Linked DNA regions of Homo sapiens. The protein of the gene in region 1 purifies or fractionates together with the protein of each later gene. This does not show direct contact. Each region holds a gene or a part of one and is shown on either strand. Other genes may lie near its edges.

Region 1 (3,464 bases):
CCGGCTAGACATTTTTTGATAAATTCACAGGGTTACAAAATACCAAACGGAAATGAGATAAGTGGTATAAACCACAGAAGATATAGGAGAAGAGAAAAAAAAAAGAGGAAATAAAGAAGACAACTCTTTTCCTAAGAGTCTGGGTAAAATTGAACATAGCCATATTCACTGAACAACATGAGTGAGCTTCATTAATTTAAGCACAGCAAAACTGCTTTAATTAACAAGACCAGAGAGAAGGGAGAGGAGACTACATTTGTGTGACCTAATGGTTGTGATTTCACTGTCCAAGAGGACAAAGACAAAGAAATTCTGGGAAGGAGAACAACAATTATATTCCCCCATTTCAAGAAGGGCAGAAGTGTCCCAACACTACCCAATATTTGCAAAATTCAAATGTCTCATAGGCTCTTCTTCCCTGGTTCCCTCAGGAGCTGGGTTTCTGGGTTGCAGAAGTGCTTTTCATATTCTGTATCTGGTTGTGGTGGCAATGTCACCACCCTACACTGCTGTGACACCGAAACAACCAAGCCTAGAATCAGCTGGTGCCTCTTTTCATCTGCAGGGTAGATTTGGCTTCCATGGTTGTTCACTGCTCTGTGTTAGGAAGGCTCAGTGACAGGTGTACAGCCTTCAGTAATGCCTCAAAGGTTCTCCAAGCAGAGGTAAACATGTGGGTCCTGCTGGTGACATATTAGACTTCTTACTTTCCCCAAATAAAAAAGTGCCTGCTGGGCGCGGTGGCTCACGCCTGTAATTCCAGCACTTTGGGAGGCCGAGGCGGGCGGAACACAAGGTCAGGAGATCAAGACCATCCTGGCCAATATGGTAAAACCCCATCTCTACTAAAAATACAAAATTAGGAAGGCGTGGTGGTGCACGCCTGTAATCCCAGCTAGTCGGGAGGCTGAGGCAGGAGAATTGCTTGAACTGGGGAGGCGGAAGTTGCAGTGAGCCAAGATCGCAGCATTGCACTCCAGCCTGGGCAACAGAATGAGATTGTCTCAAAAAAAAAAAAAAGTGCCACATGCCATGCTATGTGCCCAAAGTTTCCTTCACACAACACAGCCTTGAGATGCAGTATTAAATTCTACACTTTTCCTACCATAGTGATACATGTGGCTTTTCTTTGCTGTGTTCTGAGATGTCATGCTTTGAAATCAGTGGCCATTATCATCTAAGGATTCCGCCAGAGACTTCCAAAAGAAGAGGTCTCATTTATAAAGTGAATTTGAATAAAATGACCAGTTAGGTGTTTTCAGAAACACCTATGCCCTACTTGCCTACTCTTCAAGGGTTTAGGGGCTTAGGGGGAGGTTTTGTTTGGGTTTTTTGTTGCTGTTGCTTGTTTATTTGTTTGTTGTGTTTAAGACGTTTTACTTGTCCCTGAAATGTTTGTCATCACACAGATACACGCTCAGGATAAGAACTACCAGACTAGATTAGGAGGTCCACACCACCAATTGAGATGTACCTGTGCTCATGACTTGACATTGTGGTGGGCCGGCTACAACCCTCCCCACCCCTCGCTTTCACTAAATAACAACTCTCTTCTCTCCATCATTTTGACTTAGAGCCAGTCAGAATTCAATCTCCAATATCCTGACTAGCACAAGAAATCCATAGGTTGATTCTTGTTCTCCTGCATCTCTGCAGGTGGCAAACCTGATTCCTAATGCCTGTTCCTGCCTCTGCAGGGGTTCATTCAGAAAACAGGAAAATAACAAAGGCTTCCTGTAATTCTCTTTGGCTGTAATACAATTTGTTCCCGTCTGCCCCCAGGCTCACCCAGTGCTCTGTCTCAGTGGTAAGCTGTAACTGATCACTGCTGTATTAACTCAAAACTCATTTGCTTTATGGAAATTCATGGCCCTTATTTCTCAAGGGACCAGAGAAAACCAATAGGCCTACTCCCCAGCTGAGTACTTTCCATGCAAGCTACCGCATCTGTATAAATTAGGTTCAAATAACAGAGTATTTCCAGGATTTATAAATTCAGTATTACAAATAGTAATCTGGCAAGTGTTCTCAGGATCCCCTTGCTACCTGTAATTCAATCATATAACTTCTGAATGGGCTGGGGGAAAATAACAATAAGAAAAACTGGTGTTTACCTGAAGATCTGCCCAGTGATTTGTGTGTTTTCTTAATAAACTTTACCCACTTATTAAAAGAATAAAATGAAGGTGGAGTTAATTCTGACTACGGGATTCCTTTTTCACTTTTATAATGAACTCCTTCCTTCTAACTAAATCTTATCATAAGCAAATCTATGCACCAAATTATTTAGTACAATTCCTAATAACAGCTGAAGGACCATTTATTTGAAGCAATGTTCACCATAGCAAAATTCCAGTGAAGTCTAAGAACTGGGACAGTCCGTTGAGGATCCTTGTGCCAGGATGTATGTTGCCCCATGAATGTGCACATGCATATTAAAATATGGGCACCTCTTTTAATTCTTTTTTTTCTCATAATAAGTTTGAAACTCACAGTAGGAAATTGAGAGATCAATTTGGTTACTGTTTTATCATTGATCCTGAAGACAGTTGAAGCAATCATACTGGTTGTTCTCGAACTAGCTGGTTTCCCAGAGACAGCTGGAGACTGAGCACATAAAGACATCATTGAGGAAAAAGGCTACCTTGTACCTCATGGAGAGCTGAAGGTCTGATAAATGGGAACTGCCAGGTAATAGCTATGCTATTTCTGACATAAATTTAAAAACTAGTATTGTTTCTTCTAGCTCTGTTTTTGCATAGTGCACAGAGATCTTTGTAAAAAACAGGAAATTAATGTTAAATTGGATCTATAAACATAAGTCAATTTGGCTCTATTATGTCAAAAGAGAATAGGAGTTTTAACTTATATCTGTGTTTTATTAATATTTTGAAGTATAGGAACCTCATGGTGTAGCAGGATGAGCCACAGACAAAACCTCTCAGACACCGAGTTGTAGAAGGAAGGGCTTTATTCAGCTGGGAGCATCGACCAGCTACTGTCTCAAAATCCAAGCTCCCTGAGTACACAATTTCTGTCCCTTTTAAGGGCTCACAACACTAGATTTCACATGAAAGGGTCGTGATTGATTTGAGCAAGCAAGGGGTATGTGACAGGGGCTGCATGCACCGGTGGTCTGGGAGGAACAGAACAGGACAGGGAGTTCTTCTATACAATAGAGAACAGAACAATGTTCTTCTATACAATGTAAGGAATCTATGAATAACATCGGCTTCTAAATCATAAGTTGATTTTTAACTACTGGGTTTAGGCCAGGCGGGCCCAGGCCTGGTTTCGGGCCTGGCGCTGAGCTGCCTGTATTTGGTTTTACTTCCTTGTTGTTTTTACTGAATATGAAACAATATAAAACAATGTGAGAGGGTCTTTCTCTCCTCTCAATGTCAACATCATATATGATTGGAGACTTCCACATAATTGAGTTTTAGTGCCCACTGTTACAGAAA
Region 2 (3,656 bases), on another chromosome or scaffold:
CGCTGAAACATGATTTCAGTGTTGTCGGGTGTATCGTTAAGGTTACTGCAAGAAAAGGTAGCACAGTCAAGAGGGATGATTAAGAGAGTACTACTTGCAAAGGTATGGGTAAAATTAAGGGACACCAGCACGGGGTGGTGGTGCATGCCCCTGGGGCTGGCAGTAGTGGGGAGCCTCAAAGGGCAAGTGAAGGAAACCTGGAGAGAGTTGAAGCTGTGTCTTAGAGGAGGGCTGGACAACAAGAACTACAGCCATCACTAGAGAAACTCTGCCACTGCATAGCCAGCTGGATGGTCGGAAGAGGGGTACCCTGTTCCCTCTGCCCTCTAATCTCCTGCTGGTACTTTCCATTGGTTGAAGCCAACTAGAAGCCAGAGGGCAAGGGAGCTTGGCTGCTCTCCTCAACAGAGGTCAGCCTCCTAGGGAATAGGGCAGGGTGGAAAAGGGTCGAAAGCAGATCTAGAGGGGGCAAACAGAGAATGTAAATATCTAACACAGTGGGAACAGAGGGAAATGTCTTCAGGGATAAAGCTGGGTTGTGTTTTTTTGTTTGTTTGTTTGAGGCAGAGTTTTGATCTTGTTGCCCATGCTAGAGTGGAATGGCACTACCCATGGGTTCAAGCGATTCTCCTGCCTCAGCCTCCTGAGTAGCTGGAATTACAGGCATGAGCCACCACGCCCGGCTAATTTTATATTTTCAGTAGAGACAGGGTTTCTCCATGTTGGTCAGGCTGGTCTCAAACTCCCGACCTCAGGTGATCTGCCTGTTTCAGCCTCCCAAAGTGCTGGGATTACGGGCGTGAGCCACCACACCTGGCCAAAGCTGGCTTTTTTAGGGCCCAGATGTGATATGCTTATTTCTTTTTTTTTTCTTTTTTTTTTTCGTTTTTTTTTGTTTTTGAGACGGAGTCTCTCACTGTTGCCCGGGCTGGAGTGCAGTGGCGCGATCTCGGCTCACTGCAGCCTCCGCCTCCCAGCTTCAAGCGATTCTCCTCCCTCAGCCTCCCAAGTACCTGGGATTACACGTGCCTGCCACCACGCCCAGCTAATTTTTTGTATTTTTGGTAGAGATGAGGTTTCACTATGTTTGCCAGGCTGGTCTCAAATTCCTGACCTCGTGATCTGCCTGCCTCAGCCTCCCAGAGTGCTGGGATTACAGGCGTGAGCCACCACACCCGGCCGATACGCTTATTTCTTTATAGCATGTAATGACATAAGCACATAACATCTACATGTCAAACTCAGATTAGCCAAGAAAACTAAATCTAAAACTTTAAAGTATAAATTGCTCGATATTTTTAAGGGTGAAATAACGTATCTCAGCAAGAACAAAGATGCCATTGGAGTGGTCAAAGGAATTTGTACCTAAGGGAATTTCCAAACTGAATTTAATGGGCTGCCGTGGTCTGCTTGGATCTATGTTCTTTTCTTTTCTCTTTTTAAAATAATGTTGCTTCAGATATCCTAAAGAAGGATATTGTAGGAGGTGGAACGTTTCTGGTGAAAGTAACTGTACAGTCTTTTTAATCGTTGTGTTTGGGTTCTGCCCTGCATTTAGGTATTATCCTGCTTGGTACAGATCGCTTCAGTCAGAAGATCCCTGTTTAACAATGCAGAGAGGGCCAAGTTTCTCTCTCATCTTGTTGATGGTGTTAAACGAATACTGGAAAACCCACAGGTAAGTTTATCTGAGAATTTACATATGTATAGGATTAGTGTATGGCCAGCTGTTATGAGTCAGAAGGAAATCCATCCCAAGGCCCAGTAAACAATTCAGTCTGTTCTTCAGGGAAGACTGAAGTGAATCTCTATTTGTAGGCCAATTCTGAGATTATTTGCCCAAAAGAGGAGCTTATATCCTCCCGCTTCAGAAATGTAGGAGTTACAGGAAAGAATCACTTCGCTATAAGGAAATAAGGAAGAAGCTAGTCATTTTTCCCCCCAAGAAGTTAAGACTCTAACATCTCCGGGCACAGAGGCTCACGCCTGTAATCCCAACAGTTTGGGAGGCCAAGGTGGGCAGATCACTTGAGGTCAGGAGCTCAAGACCAGCCTGGCCAACATAGTGAAACCCTGTCTCTACTAAAACTACAAAAAAAATTAGCCGGCCATGGTGGCACGTGCCTGTAATCCCAGCTACTCGGGAGGCTGAGGCAGGAGAATCGCTTGAACCCGGGAGGCAGAAGTTGCAGTGAGCCGAGATCATGCCATTGCACTCCAGCTTGGGCGACAGAGTAAGACTCCGTCTCAAAAAAAAAAAAAAAACTAACATTTGGTTTTTGATTTTGTTTACCATTTTTAAAAAATGTTTATCGGTAACCTAAGTATATAGGGCTGCTTTTAGGTGGGAAGGAAGATACTTCTTTCAAACGTTAATTTCATAACTCGATTGCCCTTTTTGTCTTTTGAAGTCCCAGTGATTCAGTATTTTTTTGAAAGTATCACTTCTCTATACTAGAAGAAAATTAAAAAGCAGTTTATTTCAAAATATACTCAGTTTTGTCCCTCTTTTTAAAATTCATTTATTCATTCAACAAATTACATTGAATACCTACTCTGTGCCAGGGATACACGGGTGAACAAAACAAAGTCTTAGCCCACATATGCTAACAGAAGAAGACATATCAGGAAACTTACAATTAAATATACTGGTAGAATAGATTTTAAAATAGCTGTAATATTTGCTATATCATATAAATACTACTATATGAATAAATTACAGTAAGTGATATAAATATATGAAACATTTGTATAACTTTGCTAACTATCGGTTAGTTGTGCTGAATGATCAGTTTGACAGACGTGGAAATGAAAATTTCATTAGATTTCCTTTGATTGGTAACAATAAGAAAACAAGTCAGTCACGTCTTAGGTCGTGCCCACTTCTGCTATAATGAGCTTTACAGCCTCAGTGTGATCCTCCTGGGCTTCTGTTTCAAACTCTGTCCATTGAGGCTAATAATGTCATCTCATGTGATTATTATTGTGAACATATGAGATAATAAATGTGACTGTCCCTTTTCAAAGTGACTTTAAAAAATTGTTTCTGAACATTATGCAGACGTATCATTCTGAATCATGACCTGCAGCCCAGAAGTTAAAAAGTAGATTCTACCCCTTCCCCCATGCCATCTCAAGTATACATCATTCTTGAAGTATGTTAAGGCACATTTTACATTTTATTTTTCTCCTCTGCTACTGCCAGAGTTTATCAGACCCAAACAATTACCATGAGTTTTGCAGACTACTGGCCCGATTGAAGAGTAACTATCAACTGGGAGAATTGGTAAAGGTGGAAAACTACCCTGAGGTCATCCGATTGATAGCCAACTTCACAGTGACCAGCCTACAGGTTTGTCTTTGATTACTTGTGTCTTCCTTCCTAAATACTGGAATCTCTTGCTTGTTGGTTTTAACCATGTAAGAATATATTTTTTTTTCTTGGCAAAGGTAACCATAAGTCCAGTATAGCCCTACAGAGTAGTTACTATTGTGGCCTGTGATTTACATTTACACAAGTGCAAGTAGTGTGGGGAGAGGAACATGTGGGAATTACTAGGATAATATTTAGATTCATCCCAGAGAGAATTAGCTCATAGTCACCCCAAAAAAGCCAAGGTCGGAACAGGGAGCTAGACAGAAGAGTAAAAAGAGAG
Region 3 (3,656 bases), on another chromosome or scaffold:
AGGGTTGTCATAGATGTAATTAGTTCAGATGAGGTCATACCGGAATAGGGTGGGCCCCTAGTTCAATATAACTGATATAGAAAGGGGAAGTGTGGATGCAGACACACACAGGGGGAGCATGTGAAGATGAAGGCAGGGATCAGGGTGATGCGTTTACAAATCAAGGAATGCCAAAGACTGCCAGCAAGCTACCAGAGGCTACAGATTTTCCCTCATAGCCTTCAGAAAGAACAAATCCCATGGACACCTTATAGCTTGGACTTCTAGCCTCCAGAAGTAGGAGAAAACAAATTTCTGTTGTGGTATTTTGTTAGAGCAGCCCTAGGAAATGAATATCATGGTTAATCTGCATCTTATTCAAGACAGGAGAATATTTCCCTGATCCCTAATGAAAATTTAATAAGCCAGTCCATGCTCTCGACTGAGTTGTGAAAAATGTGCCTAAAATGCAGAACACTTGATAATATTCAATGTCATCACACACAGGCAGGTACAGAAAAATTATAAGACAACATTTGTAAAATAAGAAGCTTCAACCCATTCATTAGGAGAAAAAATATCAGAAAAGCTATGACTGGGCCGGGCACAGTGGCTGGTCACATCTGTAATCCCAGCACTTTGGGAGGCCAAGGCGGGCAGATTGCTTGAGGCCAGGAGTTCGAGACCAGCCTGGCCAACATGGCAAAAGCCCGTCTCTACTAAAAAAAACAAAAATTAGCTGGGTATGGTGGCATGAGTCTGTAGTCCCAGCCACTTGGGAGGCTGAGGCAGGAGAATCGCTTGAACCTGGGAGGTAGAGGCTGCAATGAGCTGAGACTGCACCACTGTACTCCAGCCTGGGCAACAGAGTAAGACCCTATCTCAGAAAAAAAAAAAAAAGAAAGAAAGAAAGAAAGAAAAGCTATGACTGATACATTTATGTCTCCAGAGACTCTTACGGCAACGCATAGATAAAGGAACTACAGAGTTACACAAAAGGGTGCAATCAAAATAGACAGCACTGTTACCTCTGTCCAATACTGCTGTTTGGTTTCTGTGTCCATATGTGCAAAACCTCCTAAGACTAGAGCCTTCATCAATGTCCTCTGCACAGGACTTGACAAGAAATTAAGAGGTGGGCTTCGGCTTGCAAACTGCTTAGCTAAATTCCACCAGTTCTCACATTGAATTACTAAGTTTGCCCTACAGGTAGAAATAACAAAACATAAGATGTATTACTATGTATATACATACACACATACACATATACACACAAAGAAAACAAAAATAAAAAATAACTAGATTTAATTACTGTTAAAGCAAAGTACAGTAAACTTAGTATAGACTTTGAAGTCACAGGCTTACATTCAAATCCCACTAGTTGTCTGGTGATGTAAAATTTATTTAACCTCTATCAATCATCACTTCTCTATAATCTGCAAAATAGGAATAATAACAGTCTCCTGGGGCTGAGACTGATATAATGATTAAATGAGATACTACCTATGACATGCTTAGAAGAGTACATAGTAAATTATAAGAATTCAATAAACCAGACAATGACAATGGTAATAATAACAATGATACTCCTATACAGTAAGAACAACGAAAACATTTCTAGAATTGTTGTAGAAAGCACTAAAAATTTTACTTTCCAACATTAAATTTTAAATATCAGTATTTAATCTTTAAAATGGGGATGTCTAAAAATTCAAATGAGCATATTCCACATAAAAGTGTTTGCAACACGATAAATTACTAATGTGTTACTCATAGGGCTTTGATGCCAAATCCTGAAGGAGTCAATGTAATGCTCAATTATAAGATGGGAAAGCTCCATTTGCATTTGTAATAGTACTGTGACATAGTTTTTAAAACCCATTACTCCAAAAATGTAGGCTCTATCTGGAATTAGGACCGTGTAACCATTTGCCAGTTCAAAGGACTACACTAAGAAGTGAAAAAGAGTTTCTCACCCACACACATACACACACAGTCAGCCTCCAACAATGGGCTAACCTTTCTCTTCTTTCCACCAAAGTGACAAGGAGCTGCACAGTGTCATTTGCAAGGTCCTGCTCACTACTCCAGACTGAGAGGTTACTGATGACTTTTTGTAAGAGGTAGCCAATTATCCACTGAGAACCCTCTGTATCTGCTCCGAACGCTGTACTGAATGGCAGACTTATCTTAAGAGAGGAAACAAATTTTTTAAGGTAAGCAAGAAAGATCAACTCAAGAAAAAAAAAACAGAGAAAAATCGAACTGAAATTAGTATCTAATCTGAAGTAGTGCTTACTTCACATCAACTTTACACATGTACTCATTTCCACTGGTCAAAAAAAAAGACATCCTCAATCCACTCACATTTTCCAGTGTGATTTTCCCGTCAACTTCTATTATTCCCATAGTATTAAAAAATTAACATAGTATTAAACCAAATACAAAAAAGCATAATCTATTCCCAAATAATAATCTGTATCTTCAACAGCAGTTAAAATAAACGATATCAAGGGATGTGCTCAAAAACACATTAAAACAGCATTCCAGTCACATAATTCTCTTCCACACAGAAAATGTTAAACTGCTCTTAAACAGTTCTATTTTGATGAAAAACCACCAAGAAAAATGTTCCTGCTTCTATAACTGCTATCATCATAAATCCAAATGAAGTTTTAAGTTTTACATTCTGACCTGATCATACAGTTTTTCATCCACCAGGAGATAAGTCTTTGCCCAGCGTTTTAAAAACCAAACAATATCTTTGCCCATCTGGGGACTTAGTAGATGAGTGAGATCTGCTCTTATTGCTCGAGATTCAACTTCTGAAACTCTGAGAATGGCAGACAACAGCCTGTAGGTATAAAACAGAAGTCATTTATTCTTTTATTTATTTAGTTGCTGTCTAATCATATTTTTTTCCTTAAAAGTCCTTTTTTGTCTTTCAGTTCTCTGGATTTAGGTCAGGCTATACTTGAACATTTCATCTACAGAGTTTTAGACAACTGTCCCATATTATTTCTGATCTTTCACGAAGCAGGAGACAAGATAAGGAAAGGAAGAGTCAACACTAGAGATGTCCTTCTGCTGAAGTTGTAACCACATGTGTGAATATCAGCATTACTAGCTAAAGAGAATTTTCAGATTCAAAATTTTCAGATTTTCAGGAGAAATACATCAAATTAAATCTTCAGAGTACATGCCAAACTCTTTTAGCATGTACTACTTAGCATCACTACTTAAAACTACCCTGGTTAGTATAGTTTGTGTTTTTATATCATGGTCATGTTACAGTACAAGATCTGGGAATTATTTAGAAAGTTTTGAATATTGAGCCTTGTTTAAATCCAATATTTCCTAGTAAACTTGATTCTTCATGGTATTTTTAAATAAAACTCTTGCTAGAAAGATTACCTGTGTAAGTACACATATTGTCCTTTCCTACACTACATAATTCATATGGTCGTGTGGTGTCAATCACATAGCGTGACATGCAGACAAACAGAAATGTCTTTGTTGAGGAGGGCACATAATCAGAAGTGATATATATTTAACCTGACTTTAGCCAAAAGGCAAGGAAGCAAAGGAGGTAATGGAAAGACCCCATTACACACTAATGAATATCAGTGCTGAGAAAAGGATTCTAATCACTCAAATTCGGCTTATGCTCCTTTACT

Evidence for each region.
Region 2: the proteins of OPRM1 (region 1) and XPO7 purify together in Homo sapiens (affinity purification with mass spectrometry; 2 studies listed by BioGRID and IntAct, with this or other methods). This does not show direct contact.
Region 3: the proteins of OPRM1 (region 1) and XPO4 purify together in Homo sapiens (affinity purification with mass spectrometry; 2 studies listed by BioGRID and IntAct, with this or other methods). This does not show direct contact.

The regions. Positions count from the first base shown.
Region 1 is NC_000006.12:154,126,101-154,129,564, forward strand, and holds part of OPRM1 (mu-type opioid receptor), read left to right. Parts: 3' UTR 1-3,464. UniProt on the Homo sapiens protein: Receptor for endogenous opioids such as beta-endorphin and endomorphin. Receptor for natural and synthetic opioids including morphine, heroin, DAMGO, fentanyl, etorphine, buprenorphin and methadone.
Region 2 is NC_000008.11:21,978,526-21,982,181, forward strand, and holds part of XPO7 (exportin-7), read left to right. Parts: intron 1-1,558; coding exon 1,559-1,678; intron 1,679-3,205; coding exon 3,206-3,352; intron 3,353-3,656.
Region 3 is NC_000013.11:20,798,158-20,801,813, forward strand, and holds part of XPO4 (exportin-4), read right to left. Parts: intron 2,834-3,656; coding exon 2,674-2,833; intron 2,169-2,673; coding exon 1,999-2,168; intron 1,183-1,998; coding exon 1,008-1,182; intron 1-1,007. UniProt on the Homo sapiens protein: Mediates the nuclear export of proteins (cargos), such as EIF5A, SMAD3 and isoform M2 of PKM (PKM2). In the nucleus binds cooperatively to its cargo and to the GTPase Ran in its active GTP-bound form.